Homo sapiens: one gene and its partner. The protein of the gene in region 1 purifies or fractionates together with the protein of each later gene. This does not show direct contact. Each region holds a gene or a part of one and is shown on either strand. Other genes may lie near its edges. The genes, in order: ZNF35 and ARIH1.

Region 1 (2,868 bases):
GGGGAGGGCAAAGCCCCAGCTGAAGAACCTAGAGAGGAGAGGTAACATGTGATGGGATTCTCTTCTTTGATGAAGCCATTTTGTGGAGGTGCTGAAATCACATACTTCGTTTTATGACTTGATGATCCTATTCTTTTTCTAGGCCAGAGAAAGCTAACATTTGTATTTTCTGTTTCTTGGTTCAGGTGCTGAAACCAAGAACCTACAGTTACTGGTTCCAAAAACTGAGATATGTGAGGAAGCTGAAAAACCCCTCATCATATCAGAAAGAATCCAGAAAGCTGATCCTCAAGGACCTGAGTTAGGAGAAGCTTGTGAAAAGGGAAACATGTTAAAGAGGCAGAGAATAAAGAGAGAAAAGAAAGATTTCAGACAAGTGATAGTGAATGACTGTCACTTACCTGAAAGCTTCAAAGAAGAGGAAAACCAGAAATGTAAGAAATCTGGAGGAAAATATAGCCTTAATTCTGGCGCTGTTAAAAATCCAAAAACCCAGCTTGGACAAAAGCCTTTTACGTGTAGCGTGTGTGGGAAAGGATTTAGTCAGAGTGCAAACCTCGTTGTGCATCAGCGAATCCACACTGGAGAGAAACCCTTTGAATGTCATGAGTGTGGGAAGGCCTTCATTCAGAGTGCAAACCTCGTTGTGCATCAGAGAATCCACACTGGACAGAAACCTTATGTTTGCTCAAAATGTGGGAAAGCCTTCACTCAGAGTTCAAATCTGACTGTACATCAAAAAATCCACTCCTTAGAAAAAACTTTTAAGTGCAATGAATGTGAGAAAGCCTTTAGTTACAGCTCACAACTTGCTCGGCACCAGAAAGTCCACATTACGGAAAAATGCTATGAATGTAATGAATGTGGGAAAACATTTACTAGGAGCTCAAACCTCATTGTCCACCAGAGGATCCACACTGGGGAGAAGCCCTTTGCCTGTAACGACTGTGGCAAAGCCTTTACCCAGAGTGCAAATCTTATTGTACATCAGCGAAGCCATACTGGTGAGAAGCCATATGAGTGTAAAGAGTGTGGGAAAGCCTTTAGTTGTTTTTCACACCTTATTGTGCACCAGAGAATTCACACTGCAGAGAAACCTTACGACTGCAGCGAATGTGGGAAAGCCTTCAGTCAGCTCTCTTGCCTTATTGTCCACCAGAGAATTCACAGTGGAGATCTTCCTTACGTGTGTAATGAATGTGGGAAGGCCTTCACATGTAGCTCATACCTACTTATTCATCAGAGAATTCATAATGGAGAAAAACCTTACACATGTAATGAGTGTGGGAAGGCCTTCAGACAGAGGTCGAGCCTCACCGTGCACCAGAGAACCCACACTGGGGAGAAGCCCTATGAATGTGAGAAGTGTGGTGCAGCTTTCATTTCCAACTCACACCTCATGCGACACCATAGAACCCATCTTGTTGAATAACAAGTAAGGAAGAGGAAGACCTCCAGCATTGGTCATAACCTTCTGCCTCCCTAATGAGACACCTCTTTGCTGTTTTCTTCCTCCTCTATAAAAGTGAGGGCTGTGTCCTTAAAAGTTATAGTTTTCAGGAATGCAGCAGAAGACACAAGAAAAGCATTTCAGAGGCTAATTTAAAACAAAAAGTAAGCACCTAAAGGCAAGGACTTTGTTTTAACTGTACCTTAAGCGGTCATGTTCTCTGAAGTGGAATGTGGCTTTCCTAGGAATGGGTCGTACAAAGCTAAGTGGTAATGATGCTATTTGGGGAAAGGTCTTTTTTGCTTAATTTTGTTTTTTAAAACTCTGATGATTGCTTGAGCAACAGGCAGGTTATCTGCCTGGTTGAATTCTGGTTGAACCGTGTATTCTAATATTTCTGGTTAAGTGGTGACTGGGTAAGGAAACCACTTGGGGTAGCAGTTCAACAATTCACTTACGAATGTTTATAAGCTTTCCATTTCCTAGGTAATTTTTTAAAAGCCAGTCAAAACAAAAACTTTACTGAAAATGGACAGAAATAGGAAATGGACTTTTTCCTTACTGTCTATACCTCCTGAACCTTGGTATTGTAAAGATCTGGGGACCTCTGGGTCTGTTCTGACCATTCCCTAGTCTCCATGGCCAAGCACTCAAGGATTGATGGACACCACACACCAGCTATATTCATTTGCCAAGATCAACAGCTCCTTCTCCAAACAACTCAAGCCCCCAATTCCCATCGCATTCCATTTGGGTGAGATGCAACTAACAGCCCCTTCCTGGATGAAGGAGTCAAAGAATAAAGCTTGCCTAGAGGCATGCCCCAGTTGTCTCTGCTGTCATTCTGCTCAAGTCCAGCCAGGGGTCTCAGTTTGGGTTTCATTCTCACATTCTGGATGGTGTTTAGAAGAAATAGTGGAGCTCTTCTCATTCTGAGAAGACCAAAGAGGGAAAGTGATGGGAGAGGGGAGGTGGAAATAAGATTCCTAAGGTCTTAATTTGATTTTTTGAGAAATTCAGAGGTATTGGAATATGAAAAACTTTTAGAAGGATGAAGAAACTGGCCAAGGTAAGATATCTTTGTTACCATTCAGCCTTTACTCCTGGAAAAATGATTTATAAAACTATGCAATAGGTAGAGTTATGTAATAATATTGCCTTGTATTTATATAGAACTTTTATTCTTTGTTGTGTACCCTTATGTATTGATCATGATACCTGGCACGTATCTCACGCTTTCACATAGATCACCTACCTCAGTCCTTACAACACTGAAACAGGTGGTTGCCCATTTACCTGAGAATGGTCATTTAGTGCAAGGCCAAGTAACAAGTGACAGCTTATATCCAAGTCCAGGTCCTGAATCTAGATTCTCTGTTCTGCCATGCCACTTGCCAAACACCTGTAATCCCCATGCA
Region 2 (7,308 bases), on another chromosome or scaffold:
AAACAGTTTTATTTACAAAGACAGGTGGCAGCTGGATTTGTCATGCAGGCCAGAGTTTGTATACCCCTGTTCTAAGCAGTCAAGTTTGTTGTCTTTTCCACGCTCCCCAAACTGCTTTCAGGTCGCTGATTACATTTCTCATTCCAGATTCTGGCATTTGATTGGAGAATTTGTCTTGATCAGGCTCAGTGGCTCACGCCTGCAATCCTAGCACTTTGGGATGCTGAGGCGAGAGGATTGAGTGCGGGAGTTTGAGATCAGACTGGGCAACAACTGAGACCCTGTCTCTACAAAAAATTTATTAAAAATTAGCCAGGTATGGTAGTGCACGCTGGCTGAGGTGGGAGGATCACTTGAGCCTGGGAAGACTTCAGTGAGCCATGGTTGTGCCACTGCACTCTAGCTCAAGCAACAGAGCAAGACCCTGTCTCCAAAAAAAAAAAAAAAAAAAAAAAAAGTCTTATTAGCAGTGATGGTATGGGTGTTCTTTTTTCATGTTGAATTTTAGTGAGAAGCAGTTTCAGAATTCTTAGATTAAGTCAAGTCCCATAACATCATACATGTCAATATGGTAAGGGAGGGTTTTCATTTCATTTGGGGAACTTGACAGGCTTGGAAATATTAGTACTTTAGGGGAAGATAAAATGCCAAGCAGATTTTCCACATATTTTCAGATTGGCATAATTTTCCTGTTCATAAGCATTGGTTTGATACTTACCTGACTCTTGAAATAACATGGCTGTGGTTTTGTTGTTTTTTCATTGAGATGAGGGTCTCGCAGTGGCATGATCATAGCTCACTGTAGCCTTGAACTCCTGGGCCCAAGTGGTCCTCCTGCCTCAACCTCTGCATTAGCTGGAACTAGAGGCAGCTTGAGGTGTGCACCACCGCGCCCAACTTGTGTTGGTTTTTTGAAGTGTTTCGTTGTATAATGCTGGATCATGTGGTTAGCTAATTATGTGGCTCAGAATTAGTATTTCTAAGCAAGGGACCAACCATAGGGCCAAGTAGTATCTGTTATGTAGGCTTTAAAACATGGGGAGAGAAAGAGGAGGTAAGGATAAAGGAAAAGAACATACGTGTGTTAGGAACCCCTTTGATAGGGGCCGGGCGCGGTGGCTCATGCCTGTAATCCCAGCACTTTGGGAGGCCGAGGCGGGCGGATCACAAGGTCAGGAGATGGAGACCATCCTGGCTAACACAGTGAAACCCCATCTCTACTAAAAATACAAAAAAATTAGCTGGGCGTGGTGGCGGGCACCTGTAGTCCCACCTACTCCAGAGGCTGAGGCAGGAGAATGGCATGAACCCGGGAGGTGGAGCTTGTGGTGAGCCGAGATTGTGCCACTGCACTCCAGCCTGGGTGACAGAGCAAGACTCTGTCTCAAAAAAAAAAAAAAAAAAAAAAAAACCCTTTGATAGTGGTTGCATTTAGTAAGCATTTATTAATGGTTTTCTGCAAATCAGGTATTGGAAATACTTTATCTTTTTAAAAGTCCATTCCCTCTAGAGATTTATGGTATAATGGTAGAGGCCTCATATGAATAATTATATATTATAATGTAATAATACAAAACAAATCTAAACTAGATACATTGTTGCTTTGATAACAATATACTTTACATATCTCTAAAGACAGACTCTCTTTACATAACTGTAATACCATTACAGTTGACTCTTGAACAATTCAGGGGTTAGGGACACTAACCCGCCCTACCTCCGCAATGGAAAATCCACATACCACTTTTGATTTTCCCAAAACTTACCTGTTTTAATAGCCTACTGATGACCAGAAGCCTTACCGATAACATAGTCAATTAACACATATTTTGTATGTTACATGTTTTATTATACTGTGTGCTTTTTTTTTTTTCTTTTTTTGAGACGGAGTTTGCTCTTGTTACTCAGGCTGGAGTGCCAGTGGCAGGTCTCAGCTCCCTGCAACCTCCACCTCCCGAATTCAAGCGATTCTCCTGCCTCAGCCTCCCAAGTAGTTGGGATTACAGACATGCGCCACCATGCCTGGCTAATTTTTTTGTATTTTTAGTAGAGACGGGATTTCATCATGTTGGTCAGGCTGGTCTTGAACTCCTGACCTCAGGTGATCCACCCACCTCAGCCTCCCATAATGCTGGGATTACAGGCGTGAGCCACTCACTGTGCCTGGCATATACTGTGTTCTTAACAATGAAGTATGCTAGGAAAAAAGTTATTTTAAAAAATTGTGAAGAAGAGAAAATGTGTTTACTTTTTATTAAGTAGAAGTGGATCAGCCGGGCCCAGTGGCTCACGCCTGTAATCTCAGCACTTTGGGAAGCTGAGGTGGGCAGATTGCCTGAGGTTGGGAGTTTGAGACCAGCCTGGCCAACATGGTGAAACCCTATCTCTACTAAAAATACAAAAATTAGCTGGGCGTGGTAGCAGGCGCCTGTAATCCGAGCTACTTGGGAAGATAAGGCAGGAGAATCACTTGAACCCTGGAGGTGGAGGTCGTGGAGAGCCGAGATCGCACCATTGCACTCTAGCCTGTGCGACAGAGTGAGACTCCATCTCAAAACAAAAAACAAACAAACAAAAAAACGGATCATCATAAAGGTCTTCAAGTTGAGTAGGCTGAGGAGGAAAGAAAATACAGGAGGGCTTGGTTTTGCTATATCTCAGGTGGCAGAGGTAGAGGAAGTCGAATGGGATTCAGGAGATGCAGGCACACTTGGTGTAACTTTACAGGAAAACCTTACGAACCGTTTTGCATTTTCATTTCTCTAAAAATGTTTCTGTATAGTAACAATCCTCTTTCCATTTGCTTTAGTTTCAGTGCTGGTATAATAGAAGGGTCCATTCATAAAGGAAGTCCAAAGCAGTCTTAAGTAATCAGAACCCTTCTGCCAAATTGTCTAATGTCAATTTATTTTCTGGCACTGCTTCTTTAGTGTCTTCTTCCTCATCATCTGGCACTGGTTTGGAAGCAGCTCATCTCCATCAAGTGGTCTTTTAATTCCTCTGGTGTGGTGTCTGTTAGCTAACCCTTCACCTTCCACGTTTTCTTTGCCATATCCACAGTCTCTTTCGTGATTTCCTTGATGGGCTCTGTTGTAGATACTGCGAAGTCACGCGCAACATCTGGACACAGTTTTCTCTACCAGGAGTTTATTGTTTCAGTCTTGATGATGCCATGGTTTTTTCTATAACAACGATGACATCTTCAGTGGTGCTCTCCTTCCAGACTTCCATGATGTTCTGTGGGGGTTCTCTTCGATAGCATTGACAGTCCCTTCCAGAGTACCGTGTGCATCTTTACGTTTGTTTACATTTCTCTCAATGTGAATGGTACCATATACGGTCTGTAAGAGTTTGTGTGCATAAGTTTTGATAAATCTCAACTTTTTATTAATAGATTTATGTATATTTTATCGTAGTAAATCATAAGATAGGCTACATATGTCTTATGCATTCATGACAACTCTTTTTCTTAATTTTGGTTTGTCCGCAAGTGTTTTCAAATTGTTGGCAAACCTCCAAAAAATATTTCAATATATTTATTGAAAAAAATCCACATATAAAGTAGACTTACAGTTTAATCCTGTGTTGTTCAAGGGTCAACTGTATATGTTTTAAAGCAATACTCTGTTGGTATCAACTATCTATTGTTCAAATATCCCCAATTATCTTAAATTTTGCTTTTTTTTGTTTTTTGGTGTTTTGTTTTTTTTTTTCAGAGGTAGAGTCTCGTTCTCTCCCCAAGGCTGGAGTGCAGTGGTGCAACTCGGCAATTCTCCTGCCTCAGCCTCCCAAGTAGATGGGATTACAGGCACATGCCACCACGCCCAGCTAATTTTTTGTATTTTAGTAGATACAGGGTTTCACTGTGTTGCCCAGGCTGGCTCAAACTCCTGAGCTCAGGCAATCCACCCGCCTCAGCCTCCCAAAGTGCTAGGATTACAGGCATGAGCCACCACACCCAGCCTATCTTAAATTTTCTTTTATAGTTGGTTCAAATTGGGATCCACATAGGTCCACAAATTGGATTTAATTGATATCTCTTGAGTCTCCTCTACCTGTTGTTCCTTCTCTTCCCCCCTCCTTGCTTTTTTTTCTTTGTTGAAGAAACTAGATCGTGTTGTCCTGTAGAGTTTCCCACATTATGGATTTTGCTGGTTGCAACTGCATGGTGTCATTTAATAGGTTCTTCTATCCCTGCATTTTCTGCACTGGTGATTAATTCAAGAAACTTGATCAAATTCAGATTCAGTGGTTGGGGGGGGAGCCCAGAATACTTAATTGATTATACTTTCTATTGTATTATATCAGGAGTTACATGGTATGTAGTTGCCACTGTAGTTTTCTACTTAAAAATATCTCTGCTTTTTGCTTGTTTTACATCTTGTGGCATACTGTAGAACAGTGCCATCCAGTAGAACATTTTTGTAATGATGTAAATGTTCTTTATCACCAGTGTCTAATTTGGTAGTCACTAAGCACATGTGACTATTGAGCGATGAGGAACTGAATTTTTAGTTTCTTAAATTGAATTTTAAGTAGTCAGGTGTGGCTTGTGGCTACTGTATTGGAAAGTACAATTAATAGGACATTTTTCAAGAGTATTAAATAACAAAAGTAGCAGTAGATGTCTATTCCTGATTTTAGCCTAGATCACAGTACTGTTTCATCAGTAAATCAGCTTTTTAAATTATTAATATTTTTAATGGACAAATCATAATTATACACATTTATGGAGTACAGTGGAATGTTTTGAAATATGTAAACAATGCAATGATTAAATCAAACTAATTGTTGTATTGCCTTGCCTTAACATTTTTATGGTGAGACATTTGAAATGATACTTATTTTGAAATATATATTATTATTGACTATATTCACCCTGTTGTGCAATAAATCTCAAAACTTACTCATCCAGTCTATCTGAAACTTTGTACTCTTTGGTCACCAACTCCCCATTCCCTCCCTTCCTACCCCTCTATCCCCGCAAGCCTCTGGTAACCGTCATTATACTCTGTATGTCTGTGAGTTCAACTTTTTTAGTTTCTACATATAAGCGAGATCATGTAGTATTTCTTTTCTGTGCCTGGCTTATTTCACTTAGTGTAATGTCCTCCAGGTTCATCCATGTTGTCACAACAGAATTCCTTTTTTGAGGCTGAGTACTCGTGTGTGTGTGTACATACATGACGTTTTCTTTCTGTGTTCATCCATTGATGGACACTTTACATGGATTCCATGTCTTGGCTATTGTGAATAATGCTGTAGTGAATGTGAGAGTACAGAGATACCTTTGACATACTGATTTCAATTCCTTTTCATATATACACAGTAGTGGGATTGCTGGATTCTGTGGTGGTTTTGTTTTCAGTTTTTTAAGGAACCTCCCCATACCATTTTCCATAATGGCTATACTAATTTACATTCCCATCAACAGTGTATCAAGAGTCTCCTTCTTTCTTTATCTTTGCCAAGACTTATCTTTCATCTTTTTGATAAAAACCATTCTAACAGGTGTGAAGTGAGACTTCATTATGGTTTTAATTTGATAATCAGCTTTTATGTACAGTTTATGTGTTATAATTATATCACCCAATTTTTCTTAATGGGACAGCGATCTAGGGCAGCCCTGCAGAGGTACCTGTTCTACTGTAATCGCTATATGAACCACATGCAGAGCCTGCGCTTTGAGCACAAACTATATGCTCAGGTGAAACAGAAAATGGAGGAGATGCAGCAGCACAACATGTCCTGGATTGAGGTGCAGTTCCTGAAGAAGGCAGTTGATGTCCTCTGCCAGTGTCGTGCCACACTCATGTACACTTATGTCTTCGCTTTCTACCTCAAAAAGAATAACCAGTCCATTATCTTTGAGGTAGGAGTAGTTCTGGGTGAGGAAAAAGCCCACCTTGTATCATAGGTCTACCTGATCTTTCATATATAAGATACAGAGTTTTCAGGGTTCTTGTTTGTTCAGAACATGTAGGTAGACGAATGTATTTATTACAAAGATACAAGAAATTTCTATTTCTTGTCCTAAATTATATTCAGATCGATGTGGTTTAGCCAGCTAGTGATTAGGTATGCAGGTTCTGGAGTCAGCCCTAGATTTTAATCTTTACTTCATTATGTTTTAGCTCTGTTGATTTGGAGCAAATTCCTTAACCTCTTATTTGTCCATTTTAAAGTGAGGATAGTACCTTTCTAGGTTGTTATGAGGTTTAAGTGAGACAATTTGTGTTTTATGTGAGACAATTTGTGTTAATTGCTATACGGCACCTGGAACATCATAAGTTCTCAATAAAAGCCTTTATTCAGGCTAAACTAACCCTGCAATATTAGAAGTTAATGTGGTGGTTATCTTTAGTGGAGAAATAATGACTAAAAAGCCAGCTTTTAGCAGTAAAGGTTTTCTCAAGTAAAGATGTTCATTTAAAATTGATGCATAAAACATTGATATCTGTATATGACTAGACAATAAGACTGACTAGCAGATGGGACTTCAGTTGGGTAACAGGTACAAAACTAGCCATAGTGGTAAAGGATGATACAATTTGAATCTTCCATACAGTGTTTTCTTATAAGAAATAAGTATAGCCAGATGTAAGCAATAATAGGTTTCTATTTTTTCTCATTTACCTTTGAGTTTTCAGCAAAGAGCAGCTCTCAGAACGAGAAGATTCCAAAAGACATTTTAAATCCTTTCAAATGGTCTTCAGTATTCTTCCAAAAGTAATGGGTGAAATCTTTCGTTCTTTTAACATTTAAAAAATTGTTCTGGAAAAGAACAAACAAGTTATTAGAGATGAAAGCCCATAGAGCTTTACAGGTGCAGTTAAACCACCTATGAAAGTTACAGAATGAGTGTTGAGAGCAGTCTGTAGTCAACAAAACAGTGAAAATGGTTTATCTTTTAGCTTTATTTTGAAGCCAAAATTTACTTTCATTCTTCTTACAGAATAACCAAGCAGATCTAGAGAATGCCACAGAGGTGCTCTCGGGCTACCTTGAACGAGATATTTCCCAAGATTCTCTGCAGGATATAAAGCAGAAAGTACAAGACAAGTACAGGTAATTTTTTTTTAAGCTGTTGAATAAAACTTTCTGCCAGTGATGATCCTTACTGGTAAAGTTCAGTGATAGTGAAACTGGGTTTAGCATATCCAGCAACTGAGCTTTTGCCATGTTTCTCACAGATTGCTTCTGTCCGTTGGGCACTAAATTGCAGGTAATAGTATTGGTGAAGCATACATAGAGAAGGAATTCAGCCATTTATTCTATTGGCTAATTCCACTTCTGTTCAGTTATTTA

What was found.
Region 2: the proteins of ZNF35 (region 1) and ARIH1 purify together in Homo sapiens (affinity purification with mass spectrometry; 2 studies listed by BioGRID and IntAct, with this or other methods). This does not show direct contact.

Annotation. Positions count from the first base shown.
Region 1 is NC_000003.12:44,658,516-44,661,383, forward strand, and holds the end of ZNF35 (zinc finger protein 35), read left to right. Parts: intron 1-185; coding exon 186-1,432; 3' UTR 1,433-2,276; downstream 2,277-2,868. UniProt on the Homo sapiens protein: May be involved in transcriptional regulation. Involved in cell differentiation and/or proliferation.
Region 2 is NC_000015.10:72,575,120-72,582,427, forward strand, and holds part of ARIH1 (E3 ubiquitin-protein ligase ARIH1), read left to right. Parts: intron 1-5,611; coding exon 5,612-5,872; intron 5,873-6,955; coding exon 6,956-7,068; intron 7,069-7,308. UniProt on the Homo sapiens protein: E3 ubiquitin-protein ligase, which catalyzes ubiquitination of target proteins together with ubiquitin-conjugating enzyme E2 UBE2L3.